Linked DNA regions of Homo sapiens. Each later gene encodes a partner of the first gene's protein in a complex. Each region holds a gene or a part of one and is shown on either strand. Other genes may lie near its edges.

Region 1 (8,905 bases):
GCTCAAAGGCACAGCTGGCATGTGCCATCCCAGTCCAGTGGGCAGATGGTACATCTGACCTCCTGCCCTTGGCCCTGCAGCCCCTAGCCCAGGAGGAGGGGATGTGTCTGGTCAGCATGGGGGCTACGAGATCCCGGCCCGGCTCCGCACCCTGCACAACCTGGTGATCCAATACGCCTCACAGGGCCGCTACGAGGTAGCTGTGCCACTCTGCAAGCAGGCACTCGAAGACCTGGAGAAGACGTCAGGCCACGACCACCCTGACGTTGCCACCATGCTGAACATCCTGGCACTGGTCTATCGGTGAGGACTCTCTGGGGGTGCCCAAATTCTTCTGGAAGGCTCCAGCCCTGGATCACTAACCCTTGGTGCCTGCTGTGGGCCAGGACTCGTGGCCCACCTGCGTGGAGCTGGGCTACAGATGCAAGTAAAACTGTCTAGTGTAAGAGAGAGGCTTGGCCAGAACTGGGGAGGGACTGCACATGAGGACTCCAGGGGTCCTGGGGAGTCCACACAGCTTCTCCAGGCACCAAGGCTGGAGGAGGGGCTTTGCCAGAAAGTGAGTTTGCCCAAACACAAGAGGGCTAGAAAAGGTTCCCATGGCAAAAAGCCAGCATGAGCAAAGGCACTGGGACCTGGAGAGCAGGACACGCTAAAGGGGCAGCAGGAGAGCCATGTGGCGCCCAGGAATGCTAGGCACCAGGCAGTCGGTGGGACCCCAGCACTGCGCACCCCAGCCAATTGTGAGAAAACTGCCTACAGCCCTTGGAGCTTGGAGAGCAGGAGCTGAGCAGGTCTCCCCACACTCTGGGTCTCACTCTGTCATACACACTCAGTGAGTACAGGAGTGACCACAGGGATTGCAGACCATTGGGGAGGGCCTTGAGCTGGAGGACAGCCCTGACCATGCTCCTACCTGCTCCCAGGGATCAGAACAAGTACAAGGAGGCTGCCCACCTGCTCAATGATGCTCTGGCCATCCGGGAGAAAACACTGGGCAAGGACCACCCAGCCGTGAGTGAGGGTTGGGTGGGAGGTGGGGGCTGTGCCCCATCCCCTGCAGGTCCCAGAGTCCTGCAGGGCCTGAGTCAAGAAGCTTCCGTTCTCCCACCTCCAGGTGGCTGCGACACTAAACAACCTGGCAGTCCTGTATGGCAAGAGGGGCAAGTACAAGGAGGCTGAGCCATTGTGCAAGCGGGCACTGGAGATCCGGGAGAAGGTGGGAACAGGCAGGGCTGGGCAGGCTGGGGGTCTGGGAGGCAGGGGCCCGGGCAGCCCTGAGCCCAACCCCTGGCTCCCTCTCCCATCCCAGGTCCTGGGCAAGTTTCACCCAGATGTGGCCAAGCAGCTCAGCAACCTGGCCCTGCTGTGCCAGAACCAGGGCAAAGCTGAGGAGGTGGAATATTACTATCGGCGGGCACTGGAGATCTATGCTACACGCCTCGGGCCCGATGACCCCAATGTGGCCAAGACCAAGAACAACCTGGTACCTTGGGGCTGAGAGGAGCTGGAGGATGGGAAGGAGGGAGGCAGGGATGAGGTTGGGGAAGAAGGAGAGAAAAAGGCTTGGCTGCATGCATCCCGCTCACTCTCTGGGTCTCCCGCTTCCAGGCTTCCTGCTACCTGAAGCAGGGCAAGTACCAGGATGCGGAGACCTTGTACAAGGAGATCCTCACCCGCGCTCATGAGAAAGAGTTTGGCTCTGTCAATGGTGAGTGCGTGGTCACCAGGTGCCTCTAGCCCATCCATCCCAGGCCCACTCTGCCATCAGCACCCAGGACAAATCCCTCAGCAGGGCAGGCCCTCAGGCTTTGGCCTGGCTGGTCACCAGCCTCACCCTCAGATGGTGCCCAGCCACCTGTGCTCACGTTTGCACACATGAGCACACACCCAACTCACGCAGCCCCCTTGGCCTGCTAGGGCCTCACACGCCTTTGCATCCCCCTTCTCCACTGGCGATTCTTGCTCACCTTGAGGGCCTGCCCCAGTGTCTCCCACTCTGGGAAACCACCTCTGGCCCCGGATGGTCAGTCATCTGCTCCTGAGTCCCTCGGAGCCTGGCCCATCATTCAGGCCTAGCACATGTCTTGGGCTGTGGCCTGAGGTGCAAGGGTCTGTTCTGCTCATCTCTGTCCAGAAGAGGGTCAGCAGTGTTTTGGGTCTTACTCTTGTTCATGCATTCAACGAAGCCCAACCGTGGTCTCCCCTCCCCTGACCCCAGTCCTGTGTCCAGCCCAACCAGGTGAGACCTATATGGTAGGCTGGTGACAGTCCCCTTTCTCTCCCCAGGGGACAACAAGCCCATCTGGATGCACGCAGAGGAGCGGGAGGAAAGCAAGGTAGCTCTGTGGGGCAGGCTGGGCGGTTGTCAGGGGAGGCTGGGATGTGCAGAGGGGGGCCTGCTCTCACTTCTTGTGACCATTCTTTCCTCCAGGATAAGCGCCGGGACAGCGCCCCCTATGGGGAATACGGCAGCTGGTACAAGGCCTGTAAAGTAGACAGGTGAGTGGGGCGGGGCTGGGCTGGGGAGCAGGGCACGGCAGGGCGGGCTCCACATTCCATACTCTCACCCCCAACACACCCCTCCTCTGCTGCTCATCTGGCAAGGCCCAACTCACAGGTCACCTGTCCCAAGAAGGCTCTGTCTCCCAATTCTCAGCCTAATTCTCTGGCTCTGGGTCTCCCAGCTTTTGGTCCTGGTGACAACATCCCATGAGGGCCCTGGGGCCAGGTCCCCAGCCCTGGGGTGATTTCCCCAGGACAGAAGAGGCTGGGTGGGCCCAGCACAGGGCTTGACATGGGAAGGAATGGATTCTGGCTACCCCGGAGGTCCATGCTTCCTCAGGGCCCACTGTGGGCTGGGTGCCAGGATGGGCCCTGGGTCTGGGGGAACATGGAGTTTGAGACTGTCCCATCCACAGCCCCACAGTCAACACCACCCTGCGCAGCTTGGGGGCCCTATACCGGCGCCAGGGCAAGCTGGAAGCCGCGCACACACTAGAGGACTGTGCCAGCCGTAACCGCAAGCAGGTGGGGCTCCATGCAGGAGGGGGTGGGCAGACACCTGTGTGGCCCTGGGTGTGGTCCATTCACTGCCTGATGCCCCTGCCCCTCCCTCAGGGTTTGGACCCCGCAAGCCAGACCAAGGTGGTAGAACTGCTGAAAGATGGCAGTGGCAGGCGGGGAGACCGCCGCAGCAGCCGAGACATGGCTGGGGGTGCCGGGCCTCGGTCTGAGTCTGACCTCGAGGACGTGGGACCTACAGCTGAGTGGAATGGGGTGAGTCCGGGGCCTGGGCCGGGTCGGGCTGGGAGCCTAGGTGGCCAGCGGGGCCTAGAGGCAAGCCTGTCCACCTGCAGGATGGCAGTGGCTCCTTGAGGCGCAGCGGTTCCTTTGGGAAACTCCGGGATGCCCTGAGGCGCAGCAGTGAGATGCTGGTAAAGAAGCTGCAGGGGGGCACCCCCCAGGAGCCCCCTAACCCCAGGTGAGCCCCCCACCAAGGTGAGCCTCAAGAACCACCCAGCAACCCCGGATGAGCTCCTGACCCAGAGTGTGCCCCACTGACCCCAGGCAACCTCCCCATCCCTCTCAGGCTCCACCACCCACCAGTCTGTTCCCTCCCCAGCCCCACCCTTCTCCCTGCCCCCATCTCCCGTGAGTTCCTCCTTGGGCAAATCCCAGGCTGTCCTTTTCCCTCAGGATGAAGCGGGCCAGTTCCCTCAACTTCCTCAACAAGAGCGTGGAAGAGCCGACCCAGGTAGGGGCAGGCGGGTGTCTGGGCACTGGGCAGCTGCGGCCGGGGCTGCATGCGTGCTGCCAAGCTTCCCTCCAGCATGCCTCTTCATCCAGCAACAGTTCCTGGCTCTGTCTCAGGCCTACTTTGGGCTGGACAACGGGGAGACACGAGGGGAACCCAGCCTCTCCTGGGGGTGGACGTGTAAACGGCCAGTGCTAACACCGTCACTGTGGAGATGGACGGGAGTGTCAGGGCACCAGGGTGTGGCCTTGGGTCAGAACTGCCATTGCCTCTGCCCAGCTCAGGGATTCCGGCTGCCTCTGCCAGGTCAGACCCCTTCAGGCCAGGGAGGCACAGACTGGCAGCAGCACAGGGCTGAGCCACCTGCCCCCTCTGCCCACAGCCTGGAGGCACAGGTCTCTCTGACAGCCGCACTCTCAGCTCCAGCTCCATGGACCTCTCCCGACGAAGCTCCCTGGTGGGCTAATGCTGAAGGGGCAGCCAGTCACCAGAGCGCCCACCTGGCACACCCCCCTCACCCCAGCCCTGCGCATGGGCCTGCTGCTTGTCCCGCCTGTCTCTCCCACAGCCCCTGTCTTTTCTGTTCAATCTCAGGGTAACCTTCTCCCTTGTCATCTCAGCCTGAGCCCTGGAGGCTGGGCCTGCCCACTCCAGCTCCATCCCTTATTTATTCCTTCCAGCAGGGCCCTCTTCCCTAGGTTCGGGCCAGCAGGAGGTGCCGGCTGGAGTCTCCACCATAGACTCAGTGGCCTGGCCTCCCCAGACCCCAGAGCCAAGAACACTAAGCACTCGCCGGCCCTTCGGCACCCTCGCCCTCCCTCCCGACTCAACCCGGCCGTTGCTTCTGTATATAGAGAAATAAGTTATTGGCCGCGCGCCTCCCTTCAGTCCACGGTACTACCCGGGCCTCCCCTCGTCCCTCTTCTAGTGGTACCGCCCAGGCCTTAATCACCCCCATTCCGTGCGGTGGTATCTCCCAGGCTCTACATTCTCGGGAGCGGCGCCTCCCAAGGGGGTCCTGGGACCTTCTCGCGCTCCTCCTGGCCTCTGAGGGATGCGTCCTACCCGCGCCATCGCCCCGTGGCCCAGGACGGGGACCTCCCCTTAGTCCGTCCTCCCACCGCCGGGCCCTGCCCCGCATCCCGGCCTTATGCACTGCCCCTCCCACCCGGCCCCGCCCAGGCACGGCCGACCCCGCCCCGGGCACCGCCCACCGAGCCATCCTGCCTCGCCTCCCCCCACGCCTGCAGCTTCTCGCGAGGGGCGGCGACGGTCCCCTGGTGGCAGGAGGGGCTCCCCCTGTTGCGGGTGAGGCGGCTGCTCTCATATTTTCAGATGTTGCTGTAGAAATAAAGACGGTTTAAATCTGAGCTGGGCTTGTTTTGAGACGGAGGTCGGGGGCCCCCAGCGTCTCTAGACTGGGGTGGAGCCGGGAAGGGTCGTGCGTGAGTGGGGGACAGTGTGTCTCGCTCAACCGCTGTCCGCGCAGCTGGGCCCAGATATTGTGCCCCACCCCGGAATTGCGTGAGGGGCCCACAAGTCAGGCTTTCCCTAAAACACTCACTTGTGGGGTTCTGGAGACCGCGGGCTCTTATGAGCTCTGCTCCTCACAAAGTTTTTGACCTTGAGTGAGTTTCCCGAGACTCAGTTTTTTCATCTATGAAATGCGGGTGATGACGCGCGGCTGCGAGTTAGGACTGCCCAGTACACGAAGAACCCTGGACAAATGTACTTTTATTAGTCTTACTAGAACCCACATTCTCATTTAATGTTCACAACGTGGGTATTGGGAGGGCAAGGATGACTACCTCCGTCAGACAGATGTGAAACGTGCCAAGCCCAGCCCTAAATTGAGCTTTCTAAACACCGAGTCGCGGTCAGGCTTTCCAGCACTGTCCTCAAGCCTGAGTGCGTCCGGAGTGCAAACTACAAGCCCCAGAAGGCAATGCGCCAGCAGTGATGGGAGTGGGCGCGGAGGCGCGGGCTCCCCGACTACGCCTGCGCAGCGGGGCTGAGTTGGAGAACGTCTTAGACTACAAGTTCCGGGAATCAGCGCGGCGAGGCCTGAGAAGAAGACGTTTGCGCCTGCGCGTCGCGGGCGGGGCCTCTGGGGCGGAGCGGCCACCATCTTGGAACGGGAGGCGGAGCAGAGTCGACTGGGAGCGACCGAGCGGGCCGCCGCCGCCGCCATGAACCCCGAATAGTGAGTGAGCCCCGCCCGCGCCGTCCAGCGCAGCCTCGATCCCGAATACAGGGCTGTACGCTTACCGGGGTTGTCTGGCCCGGGTCAGGACTGTGCGGCGCCCCCACATCCGGGTCCCTCTTCCGCTGACCCCCCCCCACATCCGGGTTCTGCCCCTCCCCCCAGGGGCCCCAGGACCCCGGCTCAAAACCCCGAGCCCTCGCACCCGGGGCCCAGACGTGGCGACCCCCAGGGGCAGCTCTTGGAGCTCGAGACATCGGTCCTACCAGGCCTTATCGGTCAGATGACCCCGCAGTCCCGGTCACTTCAGGCCTCAGTTTCCCCACCTGCTGCTTGACAACTGTCCCGGAGTTTTGGAGCCCGTCTTGATAGTTTCTGGTCTCGGGTTCAGGCTTGGGCCCTTTAGGTCGGGCAGTGAATCCCTCTACCCTTCTCTTTCTCCTGAAGCCCGGCTCCTGGGGCCGGCCCAGAAGCTAGCCAACTACGCGGGAGGCCCCGAAGCGCCGCTTGGGTCGCGTCTCCCGCAGGTCCTCTCTTCCGGGGCTGCCTCCTACCCTTTGCCTGGGTCGCGCTGTCCTGTCGCTCCCGCCGGTCCGTCCTTTCCCGCCCTCTCCTCGCTTTTGCTCAGGCCCCCAACGCCACCGTCACACCCCTTCCCTTGGCTGTCACACTGCCTGTGAAGTTTAGATGAATATGGAATTTGCTCTCCCCCTTCCTGTGGGATTCTCTGGTCCTCAAACTCTCCTCACTCTTGGTCACTCCCCCTGCGGGTAGGTGGCCCACATCTCATGCCCAGGACTAATAGTTTTCCCCAAGTATCAGTTATCTTCTTCCTTTTCTGCCACTTCCTTTTTCTACTCCACATCCAGGTCTCAGATTTCCTTGGGGAAGGGTGAAGCTCTGAGCTGGATTGGGAGGGGAACAGAGAAGGGAACCAGCAGGCTCTCGAAGGGACTTTGGAGTCTGAGAAACCTGGTTTGAGTCTTAAAGCGATAAACTGTGTAAGTTAGGGCAAGTCACTTCCCTTCTCTGGCCTCTGGTTTCCTCATTAGTTGACAATGACAAAACTGACTTCATTGAACTGTTGTGAAGATTAAATGAGATGATGCATTTAAAGTACTTCACACAGGGTCCGTCCACAGGTTGGAACTCAAGTATATTAAATGTGATTACCTTTTGCCTTTTTTTTTTTTTATTTTGAGACAGGGTCTCTCTCTGTCACCCAGGCTGGAGTGCAGTGGCGTGACGATGGCTCACTGCAGTCTCCAACTCTTGGGCTGAAGCAGTCCTCCTGCCTTGTCCTCCTGAGTAGCTGGGAATACAGAGGCACACCACCACACCTGGCACATTTTTTAATTTTTTGTAAAGACAGGGTCTCGATATGTTTCCCAGCCTGATCTCAAACTCCTGGGCTTAAATGATTCTCGTGCCTCGGGCTTCCAAAGTGTTGGGATTACAGGTGTCAGTCACTGCACCCAGCCTTAAGTGCAATTTTCACTGCAACTTGACCACCTCTTCCTGGTGACTTCATAACAGGTTTTTGTTGTTGTTGTTGTTGTTGTTGTTGTTGTTGTTGTTGTTGTTGTCTCCAAAGAGATGGGGTTAGCCGGGTGCGGTGGCTCAGGCCTGTAATCCCAGGACTTTGGGAGGCCGAGGTGGGTGGATCACGAGGTCAGGAGATCGAGACCATCCTGGCCAACATGGTGAAATCCCGTCTCTACTAAAAATACAAAAATTAGCTAGTCATGGTGGCGCATGCCTGTAATCCCAGCCACTCTGGAGGGTGAGACAGGAGAATCACTTGAACCAGGGAGTCGGACGTTGCAGTGAGCCGAGATCGTGCCACTGCACTCCAGCCTGGTGAGAGAGCGAGACTCTGTCTCGAAAAAACAAAAGAAAAGAGAGACGGGGTTGTGCTGCATCACCCAGGCTGGTCATACACTCCTAGGCTCCAAGGATCCTCCTCCTGTTTCAGCCTCCCCAGTAGCTGGAACCACAGGCACACGCCACAGCACCCAGCCATCAGTCTCTCTACGTGGGTTTTCAACTTAATAGGTTCTAGGCTGGGCCCTGGCTTCTACTTCTGGGGCCTTCTCTGCCAAGCTAGGCACACGCAGGGCATGTACTGGGGATTCCCTAAATAGCTCCTACTGGACCAAACCATGAAGTTTCAGAAATCAGGTTAGGATACCCAGCTCTGTTGCCTTGGCAGGTCACGTGTCTTGATTTCTTTCTCCATAAAGTGAGAATTTAGACTCAGCAAGCTGAGAGCCCTTTGGGCTAGCTGTTTGTGGAGGGAGGCATCAGCCCTCCCTGACCGGGACTGTTGGGAAGATCTGGTGAGCACCATAGTATTCTAAACCAAGGGATGGCCAGGCGCAGTGGCTCACCCCTGTAATCCCAGCACTTTCAGAGGCCAAGGCAGGTGAATCAATTGAACCCGGGAGTTTGAGACCAGCCTGGGCAACATAGTGAGACCCCATCTCTACAAAAAATGAAAAGATTAGCCAGGGGCCGGGTGTGGTGGCTCACACCTGTAATCCCAGCACTTTGGGAGGCCAAGGCAGGTGGATCACCTGAGGTCAGGAGTTCGAGACCAGCCTGGCCAACATGGTGAAACCCTGTCTCTACTAAAAATACAAAACTTAGACAAGCATGGTGGCAGGTGCCTGTAATCCCAGCTACTCGGGAGGCCGAGGCAGGAGAATTGCTTGAACCCGGCAGACAGAGGTTGCAGTGAGCCAAGATCGCGCCATTGCACTCCAGCCTGGGCAACAAGAGCAAAACTCAGTCTCAAAAAAAAAAAAAAAAAAAAAAAAAATTAGCTAGAAGTGGTGGTGGTGGTGGACACCTGAAGTCCCAGCTACGCAGGAAGCTGAGGTGGGAAGATCACTTTGAGCCCGCAAGGTAGAGGCTGCAATGAGCCGTGATCACTTCAGTGCACT
Region 2 (10,458 bases), on another chromosome or scaffold:
TTAGAGGCTACTCTATGATTGCGCCACTGCACTCCGGCCTGGGTGACAGATGGAGACCCTATCTCAATAATAATAATAAGTAAATAATTGTATAAAAAGCGCTTCTATTTTTATACTCTTTTAGTTTGGACAATTTCTGTGAAATCATGTTTTTGTTGCACATGATGTTCTCAAATGTTTTTCATTCAATAAATACATGACAGTTAAAATTATGAATGTACACCGTGAACCAAGTTAAATAATCTTTTTTCCTTGAGGAAGACTAAGGTGACTTTCCCTATTTCCAGTCCTCTGATGGATGGTGCCCGTAACAGAGCCAAACACGTTATTAATACAACCCACATATTTTGAGGAAGCTCCTGGTATCTATATTTTATTTTATATTTTATTTGGGCTCATTTTCTGTTTTTCCCTTTTTCTTATGTTCTGATACTGAATGGAAGTGGAGCTCTGAACCCTTTGGCACCGTAACCCTTTAATTACTGGTGTTTGTGTGATGTCTGTCCTCATGGCATAACAGTCAATGCCCTAGGCAGCATGGGTCTTGTGACCTGTTGGCAGTGCAGCTGTGTATCTGTTGCAAGACTTTACCCCCTCTAGTTTCCTTGATTTTGCTTCTCTGGATGAATGGGACAAATTTAAAGATGAGGTTTTTTGTTTTTGTTATTGTTTTGTTTTTTAATCATATCAGAGTATTGTTGGCAAAGTTACTAATGCTAGAATCCCTCTTTTGTAGCGTTTATAGTCAGATTGGTTTACTTACTAGACTGTTTTTTTCCATTGTAGTGAAACATTCTTTCTTGGTACCTGCTTTTTCCAGGTAGTTAACAGAATCTTTGCTAATTTGGATACTGTTTTGTAGAAACTACTAATGAAGACCTCCAGAAACAGAGGCTAGTTTGTTTTATTTTGTGTTTAATAGAACTCTTACCCAGACTGAAATAAGGTTTTCCTCTCCTGCTGTGGTCTTCTGGTACAGACGTGGAGTTAAAGCATTTTTTTTTTTTTTTTTTGAGAGATGGGATCTTGCCCTGTCACCCGGGTTGGAGTGCAGTGTCACAGTCAAAGCTCACTGTCATCTCCCAACTCCTGGACTTAAGTGCTCCTCCCACCTCAGCCTCCTGAGTAGCTGGGACTACAGGCATAAATTTTCAAGTTAATTTCCAATGTCAATATCAGTAGTTGTGGGTGGGTGTAGGGGTATGTCTGTCTCCCTCCCTCCACACAAAACGGCCCCCCCCTTCCATTGTTTTAAGACTAGCATTTCTTAATTTGAGCTTAATTTCAGTTTAAAGACTGTAAAGCCTTTATGATAATGCAGGCTTAAACCAAATAATCAGTATGGAATTTTGTACGCTCACACGAGATTCCATTATATAAATTAGTTGATCCAAGTTAGTATTTGTTTTGGTGATATGAAAAAATATATGAAAAAACTTTTAGAGGAGGCATGGATAGTGGTCATCTTTAGTTGTTATCGTCCCTTCCCAGTGTATTAAGTGCCCTAATCCAGGTGATTTTGGACATGCCTATTACTCTGAGGGGGCAGAAATCTTTACCTGGATTCTGTAGCCAGAGTTGGGAGAAGTTTAAGCCAATAGTGGGTTGTGTCATCTTTATCTGAACCATTAAGAACCACAGTTCAGATGAAGTGTCCCATTGTTAAAATTAGCATTTTAGGGAGTTGAGTCTGATCTCCCTCCCTGACTACAAAACCCTGTTGCAGTTGTTGCTATACCTATTGCTGTGGTGCCCCTCAAATAAAGTCTGCTTTGCCCTCTTTATAAATAAATAAATAAATAAATAAAAATAAGCGTTCTAATGAAGAGTAGGCCAAAGTCATACCTATCTTCCTTTGTTGAATGAATTACTTTTCAGGCATCAGGGATTTATTTATAGCAGTCTTATATTTTGCAGCCAGCTGTAGGACGGTCATTCGTTCCATCATGGTTATGATAGCCAAGACCTCTACTATAAAGGAATTTGGAAGGTATCAGCTTTGGAATAATAGTGCACTATCTTGTAAGTGGGGCAATAAAGAAATTGGAGAAGAAAGGATTGAGGGAGATTAGAATGACATACATTCTACCTCTAGATGAAATGTGGGCTTTTATTCCAAGCCAGATACAGCGTTCTCAAGTCCAGAAATGTGTGTCCTGCTCTAAATCTATAAAGTTTATCTCGAAATACAATAGATAATAGGCATTTATTTTAATCTTTTCCTGAACATCCCAAGAATAGCTCTATGATGTTTCTCTTTCGGAAATAAACAGGATGTCTGTGAATTTGTCTTTCAGTGGAGACGCTGCTAACTCCCTCCCTGTGTCGTCTAGCAGTTGATCTCACTCTGTAATTCATACATCTTTAGCTCACTTGAATTTTCTGTTTCCTCTTCCCTTTTTATGTCACAGTGAGAGCCTATACATTTAGTTGGAATAAAGTATTTGTCAGAGTGGCACACGTGGGAGTGCTTTCTCCATCTGCCACTGACATTTAATCACTAGGCTGTGGGGTTGAGGAGGGTGGTGTTGGGGCCTGAAAAAAACAGCAGCCGAAATCCACGTTGGGACAGCATCCTCCTCTGGGAAACACCGGTAGTGTTAGAAACAGGCCAAAGAGTCTGCAGATCTGTTTAGAGAGTTCTGCAGTGAGCATCACCTTAACAGTATGGGAAAAATAATGTCATTTACTGCAAGCCAGTTTTTTCCAGAGGAACAATAACTAAACTAAATCACTTACTATATTCTGCACGTATTTGTTGCGTTCCCACAGAGTGCCAAAAATTTTGAAATAGTAAGTAAATTTTGAAATGCAGGATTAAAAGTAGAATTGGAGGCCAGGTATGGTGGCTCAACGCCTGTAATCCCAGCACTTTGGGAGGTCGAGGTGGGTGGATCACTAGAGCCCAGGAGTTTGAGATCAGCCTGGGCAACACTTTTTTTCTCTACAAAATATATATACGCAAAAATTAGCTGGGCCAGTGGAGCTTGTCTGTGGTCCCAGCTACCTGGGAGGCTAAGGCAGGAGGATCACTTGAGCCCAGAAGGTTGAGGCTGCAGTGAGCCATGATCGTGCCACTATTCTCCAGCCTGGGTGACAGAGTAAGACCCTGTCTCTAAAAAAAAAAAAAAAATTGGAACAGAGTCTTAAGAGAAATGAGTTATGGGAGGTATGATTTGAGGATTTGAGTTCAGAATTAAGTAACATTCTGGCAAATGGTTTGCCAAAACCTCATGGAAATTCAGTTGACTGCATAGTGGTTTTTTTCCCCAAGATACAAGATTTCCTTTCTCCCAGATTGCCGAATAGCTTATTTAGAAAGAGAGATGGGGTGGATGTATGTCTAAACAAACTGAAGAAAAATTATCATACTCTTAGCAAATAGGTTAACAAGACTTCTGAATATCAGCTTCCCTCAAGCAGTATTCAGTATTGCCACTCAAGTGCTGTCAATTTGTGATGTGTGGAAAGTGCAGGGGTACTCCCAAGTTAAAAAAAAATTAAATATGTTAGGTTTTTTCTCTTTGTTGGAAATTAAATTCTTCTCATGGTTTGCCTCCACCGATGTTATATAAAAAGGCTTCTCTGTTTCCTGCATGTTTTTGACCCCTCTTGAAAACGTACAGCCTGGTCTTCCAAAGGATGGCCCTCAGGCCCAAAGTAAAATCCCTCCCTGTCTTCCTCCTGAGTACAGGATAAACCCAGACTCCTTTGCGGGATGAATCCAGCCCAGCCTCTTTTACTGCGGTGCTACCTGCTTCTGTTCTCTCCCTTTACCTGGCACTTCAGCTTCATAGAACTCTTTGTTTCCTGGACATGGTGTTTCTTTCATGTGACAAGGTCTTTGCACATAACTCTTCTGCCTGGAGTACTTTCCCCTTAACACACTCTTCCCTGTGGCAAAATTTTCTTTAAGAACGTACCAGAGCCCAGTGTGGTGGCTCACATCTGCGATCCTAGCACTTTGGGAGGTTGAGGCAAGAGGATTGCTTGAGCCCAGGAGTTCAAGATCAGTCTGGGCAACATAATGAGACCCCACCTCTACAAAAAATTTTTTTAAAATTAGGCATGGTGGCATAGAAGGCTGAGGTGGAAGGATCGCTTGAGCCCTAGAGGTTGAGGCTGCAGTGAGCTATGATTGTGCCACTGCACTCCAGCCAAGGCAACAGAGTGAGACCCTGTCTAAATAAATAAATAAAAATTAAAAAGAAGGGCCAGATGCGGTGGCTCATGCCTGTAATCCTAGCACTTTGGGAGGCCAAGGTGGGCGGATCACCTGAGGTGGGGAGTTCGAGACCAGCCTGACCAACATGGAAAAACCCTGTCTCTACTAAAAATACAAAATTAGCCAGGCATGGTGGTGCATGCCTGTAATCCCAGCTACTCGGGAGGCTGAGGCAGGAGAATTGCTTGAACCTGGGAGGTGGAGGTTGCGGTGAGCTGAGATCGTGCCGTTGCACTCCATCCTGGGCAACAAGAGTGAAACTCTGTCTCAAAAAAAAAAAAAAAAAAAATTAAAAGAAGGATCCAGAATATATTCTTGGTGAAGCCTTTCCTGACTGCTTTAGAAGTAGTCATTCTTGGCCAGGTGTGGTGGCTCACTCCTGTAATCCCAGCACTTTGGGAGGCCGAGGCAGGCAGATCACCTGAGATCAGGATTTCAAGACCAGCCTGGCCAACATGGCAAAACCCCGTCTCCACTAAAAATACAAAAAATTAGCCAGGCGTGGTGGTGAATGCCTGTAATCCCAGCTACTCGGGAGGCTGAGGCAGGAGAACTGCTCAAACCCAGGAGGTGGAGGTTGCAGTGAGCTGAGATCGCAACACTGCGCTCCAGCCTGGGCAACAAAGAGCGTAACTCCGTCTCAAAAAAAAAGAAGAAGAAAAAAAGTCATTCTTTCCTCTGGATTTTCATAATCCCTCAGATTCTATTATATATAATAATTGTTTGTGTCCCTACTGTGAGCCCTTCAAGGGCTGGGAGGGAGTAATTCATCTTTTTATCCCCAGTACAGTGCTTAGTACAAGTAGACACCCATTAAGTGACAGACTGATGAATGACTGGACAAATGGGCAGGCGGATGAATGGATGAATGGATGAATGGATGAAAGGACACACCTGAGTCAAGAGCTTGACACATCTCATGAACAATTGACTAGGTGTTATGCTGACAGAAGAAATTGGAGATTTTTTTTTGTTTTTGAGACAGAGTCTTACTCTATCACCCAGGCTGGAGTGCAGTGGCACAATCATGCCTCACTACAACCCGCCTCTGCCTCCTAAGCAGCTGGAATTACAGGTGCACGCCGTCACGCCCACCTATTTTTTGTAGAGACAAGGTTTTGCCATGTTGTGCAGGCTGGTTGCTCTCCAAATCCTGGGGTCAAGCAATCTGCCCACGTCGGCTTCCTAAAGTGCTGGGATTATAAGCATGAGCCACGTCTGGACTAAAAACCATGCCCGGCAGTGGTTTTTATTTTATTATATTTTTATTTTTATTTTGTTTATTTTTTTGAGACGGAGTTTTGCTCTCGTTGCCCAGGCTGGAGTGCAGTGGCGTGATCTCAGCTCACTGTAACCTCCGCCTCTTGGGTTCAAGTGATTCTCCTGCCTCAGCCTCCCAAGTAACTAGGATTACAGGCACCTGCCACCACGCCTGGCTAATTTTGTATTTTTAGTGGAGACGGGGTTTCGCCATGTTGGTCAGGCTGGTCTCGAACGCCTGACCTCAGGTGATCCGCTCGCCTCGACTTCCCAAAGTGCTGGGATTACAGGCATGAGCCACCACGCCTGGCCTATTTTATTTTATTTTTTATTTATTTATTTTATGAGACAGAGTGTCACTCTGTTGCCCAGTCTGGAGTACAGTGGCATGATCTCGGCACACTGTAACCTCCGCCTCCCGGGTTCAAGCGATTCTCCTGCCTCATCCTCCTGAGTAGATGGGACTACAAGCGTGCACCACCACACCCGGCTAATTTTTATATTTTTAGTAGAGACAGGGTTTCACCATGTTGGTCAGGCTGGTCTCGATCTCCTGACTTCAGGTAATCTGCCCACCTTGGCCTCCCAAAGTACTGGGATTATAGGTGTGCCCAGAAGGGGTTTTATTTTTAATGATTTCTAGGTAGGTAACCATTTAATTTGGCTTCCAAACTGGGACATATTTGAGAATACAGGGAGCAGAAAGGGTTTGCTGTGAACAATTGTGCCAGGACTCTAGGTATAAACCAGGAAGATCTCAGACAGATGAGGACAAATGGTCACCCTACTAGGTTACCAGGAAACAGCAGTCAAGCCAGGAGGACAGGTTTACCGAGGTGAAAAGTTACTCCTATTATCTTTCTGTCGCACTTCCAATTGCACATGGCTCCAAACCAGCTAGTGCCTCTGTTTATGTGGGTTTTACGTTTCAGGTCTCATAGGTAGCTCACCTGTGACTTATTAGTACCAACTTTAATTTATGTTAATAATGGGCCAGACCTGATGGCTCATGCCTATAATCCCAGCACTTTGGGAGCCTGAGGCAGGCAGATCACTTCAGGTCAGGAGTTCGAGACCAGCCTGGCATGGTGAAACCCTGTCTCTACTAAAAATACAAAAAATTAGCTAGGTGTGGTGGCAGCATGCGCCTGTAATCCTGGCTACCTGGGAGGCTGAGGCCCGAGAATGGTTTGAACCCAAGAGACAGAGGTTCCAGTGAGCCAAGATTGCTTCACTGCACTCCAGCCTGGGAGACAAAGCAAGACTCTGTCTCAAAAAATAAAAATAAAATAATAATAATAATAATAATAATGTACAGCTTTGTCATAGAAACAGTTTGTAGACTCACAATGGTCTCAGACTAGAACATTGCTGGGGAAGATGCTTGGTGTCCCTTCTAAAACCTAATGTACCTTCTGTTAGTTATTTCTAAAATCTGCCCTACCTTCTGGTGATATCTTCCACTTCAAATGAACTCTGGTGCCTTGCACCTAATATATACTACATAAATATTTTTTAATTAGTCTATTTACTGTCAAATGGAAGGGCCGTATCTCCTGGCCTTTCTTCTGTACCCTTCATCCCAGCCCCTGAATGTCCTCCATTTCCTTTGTGTGTATACACATTTAGTTTTATTGTAACAAGGCAACTCGTACACTTTTTTTTTTCCTTTTTTCTTGTATAAGCAGGTGAATCCATGTTCTTTCTGCCTTTTTTTTTTTTTTTTGAGACAGAACTTGTCACCCAGGCTAGAGTGCAGTGGTGTGATCTCAGCTCACTGCAAGCTCCGCCTCCCAGGTTCACCTCATTCTCCTGCCTCAGCCTCTCGAGTAGCTGGGACTACAGGCGCCCGCCACCACGCCTGGCTAATTTTTTTGTATTTTTTTAGTAAAGACAGGGTTTCACCGTGTTAGCCAAGATGGTCTCGATCTCCTGACCTCATGATCTGCCCACCTCGGCCTCCCAAACTGCTGGAATTGCAGGCGTGAGCCACCGCACCTGGCCTAATTATTGTATTTTTAATAGAGATGGAGTTTCACCATGTTGGCCAGGCTCGTCTCAATCTCCTGACCTCAGTGATCCATCCACCTCGGCCTCCCAAAGTGCTGGGATAGGCCAGGTGTGGTGGCTCACGCCTGTAATCTCAGTACTTTGGGAGGCTGAGACTGGCGGGTCACGAGGTCAGGAGTTTGAGACTAGCCTGACCAACATGGTGAAACCCTGTCTCTACTAAAAATACAAAAAAAAAAATTAGCCAGGCATGGTGGCACGTGCCCGTAATCCCAGCTACTCAGGAGACTGAGGCAGGAGAATCACTTGAACCTGGGAGGTGGAGGTTGCAGTAAGCCGAGATTGCGCCTCTGCACTCCAGTCTGGGCAATAGGGCGAGACTCCGTCTCAAAAAAAAAAAAAAAAAAAAAAATGCTGGATTACAGGCACGAGCCACCGTCCGTGGTTGCTGTCGTTGTTGTTGTTGTTTTTGAGACGGAGTTTCGCTCTTGTCGCCCAGGCTAGAGTGCAGTGGCATATAGCATGATCTCGGCTCACTGCAACCTCTGCCTCCCAGGTTCAAGCAATTCTCCTGCCTCAGCCTCCCGAGTAGCTGGGATTACAGGCATGCGCCGCCACGCCCGGCTAATTTTTTGTATTTTTAGTAGAGACGGGGTTTCTCCATGTTGGTCAGGCTGGTCTCGAACTCCTGACCTCAGATGATCTGCCCACTTCGGCCTCCCAAAGTGCGAGGATTACAGGCGTGAGCCACTGCGCCCAGCCTGTTTTTTTTTTTTTTTTTTTTTTTTTTTTTTTTTTTGAAACGGAGTTTCGCTCTTGTTGCCCAGGCTGGAGTGCAATGGCGCGATCTGCAATCTCAGCTTACCTCAATCTCCGCCCCCTGGGTTCAAGCGATTCTGCTTCAGCCTCCTGAGTAGCTGGCATTACCGGCCTGTGCCACCACGCCCGGCTAATTTTGTATTTTTAGTAGAGATGGGGTTTCTCCGTGTTGGTCAGGCTGGTCTCAAACTCGCAATCTCAGGTGGTCTGCCCGCCTCGGCCTCCCAAAATGCTGGGATCACAGGCATGAACCACCGTGCCCAGCCTTGTTTTTGTTTTTAGAGACAGGTCACCAGGACACCTTCCTCCTTTTCCTCAGACTAGAACATTGCTGGGGAAGATGCTTGGTGTCCCTTCTAAAACCTAATGTACCTTCTGTTAGTTATTTCTAAAATCTGCCCTACCTTCTGGTGATATCTTCCACTTCACATGAACTCTGGTGCCTTGCACCTAATATATACTACATAGTTTAAATAAAATTTAGAATTCTGCTGGAGTGGAAAAGTCCAGTGCCTTGATAATAGGGTATTGCTCTGTCACCTAGGCTGAAGTGCAGTGGTGCTATCATAGCTCACCACAGCCTTATACTCCTGGGCTCAAGTGATCCTCTCGCCCCAGCCTCCTGAGTAGCTGGGACCACCATGCCTGGCTAACTTTTCGTACTTTTTGTAGAGACAGGGTCTCACTTTGTTGCCCAGGCTGTTCTCGATTTTGTGGACTCAAGTGATTCTCACACCTTGGCCCTCCACAGCACTGGGATTACAGGTGTGAGCCATTGTACCTGGCTTCCTTAACTTGTACACTTTTTTTTGTTTGTTTGTTTTTGAGATGGAGTCTCGCTATGTCGCGCCCAGGCTGGAGTGCAGTTGTGCGATCTTGGCTCACTCCAGCCTCTGCCACCGGGGTTCAAGCAATTCTCCTCTTTCAGCCTCATGAGTAGCTGGGATTACAGGCGTGCGCCACCAGGCCAGGCTAACTTTTGTATTTTTAGTAGAGACGGGGTTTCCTCATGTTGGTCAGGCTGGTCTCGAACACCTGACCTCGTGATCTGCCTGCCTCAGCCTCCCAAAGTGCTGGGATTACAGGTGTGAACCACTGTGCCCGGCCTTTTGCTTGTACACTTTTAACATTTAAAGCAGAGTATCATCTTTACAGTGAAAGAAAAATAAAATTTAAAAATGAACAGGAACAAAATTACAATACAGAATTCAATTCCAAATAAGATTCTACAGGTTATGCTGATTGTCCTAATCAAGTGGTGAGGCTCAAACCATCATTAAGAGAGAATTTATTGGTTTATTGATTTATTTAAACTATATATATATGGTTGAGGCTGCAGTGAGCCATGACTGTGCCACTACACTCCATCTTGAGTGACTGAACAAGACCCTGGCATCAAGGCATTGGACTTTTCCACTCCAGCAGAATGGGCTTTGCAGGAAAAGGAAGAAGGTATCTGGAAGCAATAGGAGACAAAAGTAAAGAAAAGGCAGATGTGATGGGTGCTGCTTTGGGTTTAACTTGAGACACCAAAGATAGGTAGGTCTGAAGCCGAGAGAATTTATTTATTTATTTATTTTTCTTTTGAGACAGAGTCTTGCTCTGACGTCCAGGCTAGAGTGCAGTGACGCTATCTCGGCTCACTATAACCTCCACCTTGCAGGTTCAAGCGATTCTCCTGCCTCAGCCTCCTGAGTAGCTGGGACCACAAGCGCCTGCCACCATGCCCGGCTAGTTTTTTGTATTTTTAAAGTAGAGACAGGGTTTCACCATGTTGGCCAGGCTGGTCTCGAACTCCTGACCTCAGGTGATCTGCCTGCCTTGGCCTCCCAAAGTGCTGGGATTACAGACGTGAGCCACCGTCCCCGGCCAAGAATGTATTTTAAAAAGGTCGTCTTACACTGCAAGGATGTTCATTAAACATCACAATTAAGCATGTCAAGAGAGTTTTGCTCCTCTTCCTTTTTAAGGTACACTTCTCAGGTTAGCTTGGCCCTGACCCACTGCAGTCTCTTTGAGCTCTTGGCCATTATTGTCTGCATGCACCTTTTTTGACAATTATAGTCTACTGCCTTGTGACGTTTGGTGTTGTCTTGTGTAACATTTCTTGTGTTTTTGACATATTTTCTCAATGGTACTGGCAA

Evidence for each region.
Region 2: the proteins of RAB1B (region 1) and TBC1D20 are in contact, whole or in part, in a crystal structure (PDB 4HLQ), measured with the Homo sapiens proteins. Residues at the interface, in NP_112243.1 of Homo sapiens: Ser17, Gly18, Ser36, Tyr37, Ile38, Ser39, Thr40, Ile41, Gly42, Val43, Asp44, Phe45, Gln60, Trp62, Ala65, Gly66, Gln67, Arg69, Phe70, Thr72, Ile73, Tyr77, Glu94; in NP_653229.1 of Homo sapiens: Gln97, Gln98, Leu101, Asp102, Arg104, Arg105, Leu107, Arg108, His141, Tyr142, Tyr143, Gln144, Gly145, His147, Asp148, Phe177, Met178, Asp179, Pro180, Thr181, Met182, Lys186, Val212, Ile215, Leu218, Ser219, Thr223, His227, Met272, Ala273.

The regions. Positions count from the first base shown.
Region 1 is NC_000011.10:66,262,734-66,271,638, forward strand, and holds the start of RAB1B (ras-related protein Rab-1B), read left to right. Parts: upstream 1-5,905; 5' UTR 5,906-5,946; coding exon 5,947-5,960; intron 5,961-8,905. Other genes in the region: KLC2 (kinesin light chain 2), read left to right, coding at 81-303, 927-1,014, 1,118-1,219, 1,313-1,486, 1,612-1,711, 2,290-2,339, 2,435-2,502, 2,922-3,030 and 4 more. UniProt on the Homo sapiens protein: The small GTPases Rab are key regulators of intracellular membrane trafficking, from the formation of transport vesicles to their fusion with membranes.
Region 2 is NC_000020.11:450,990-461,447, reverse strand, and holds part of TBC1D20 (TBC1 domain family member 20), read left to right. Parts: intron 1-10,458. UniProt on the Homo sapiens protein: GTPase-activating protein (GAP) specific for Rab1 and Rab2 small GTPase families for which it can accelerate the intrinsic GTP hydrolysis rate by more than five orders of magnitude. Also shows GAP activity for RAB18 GTPase.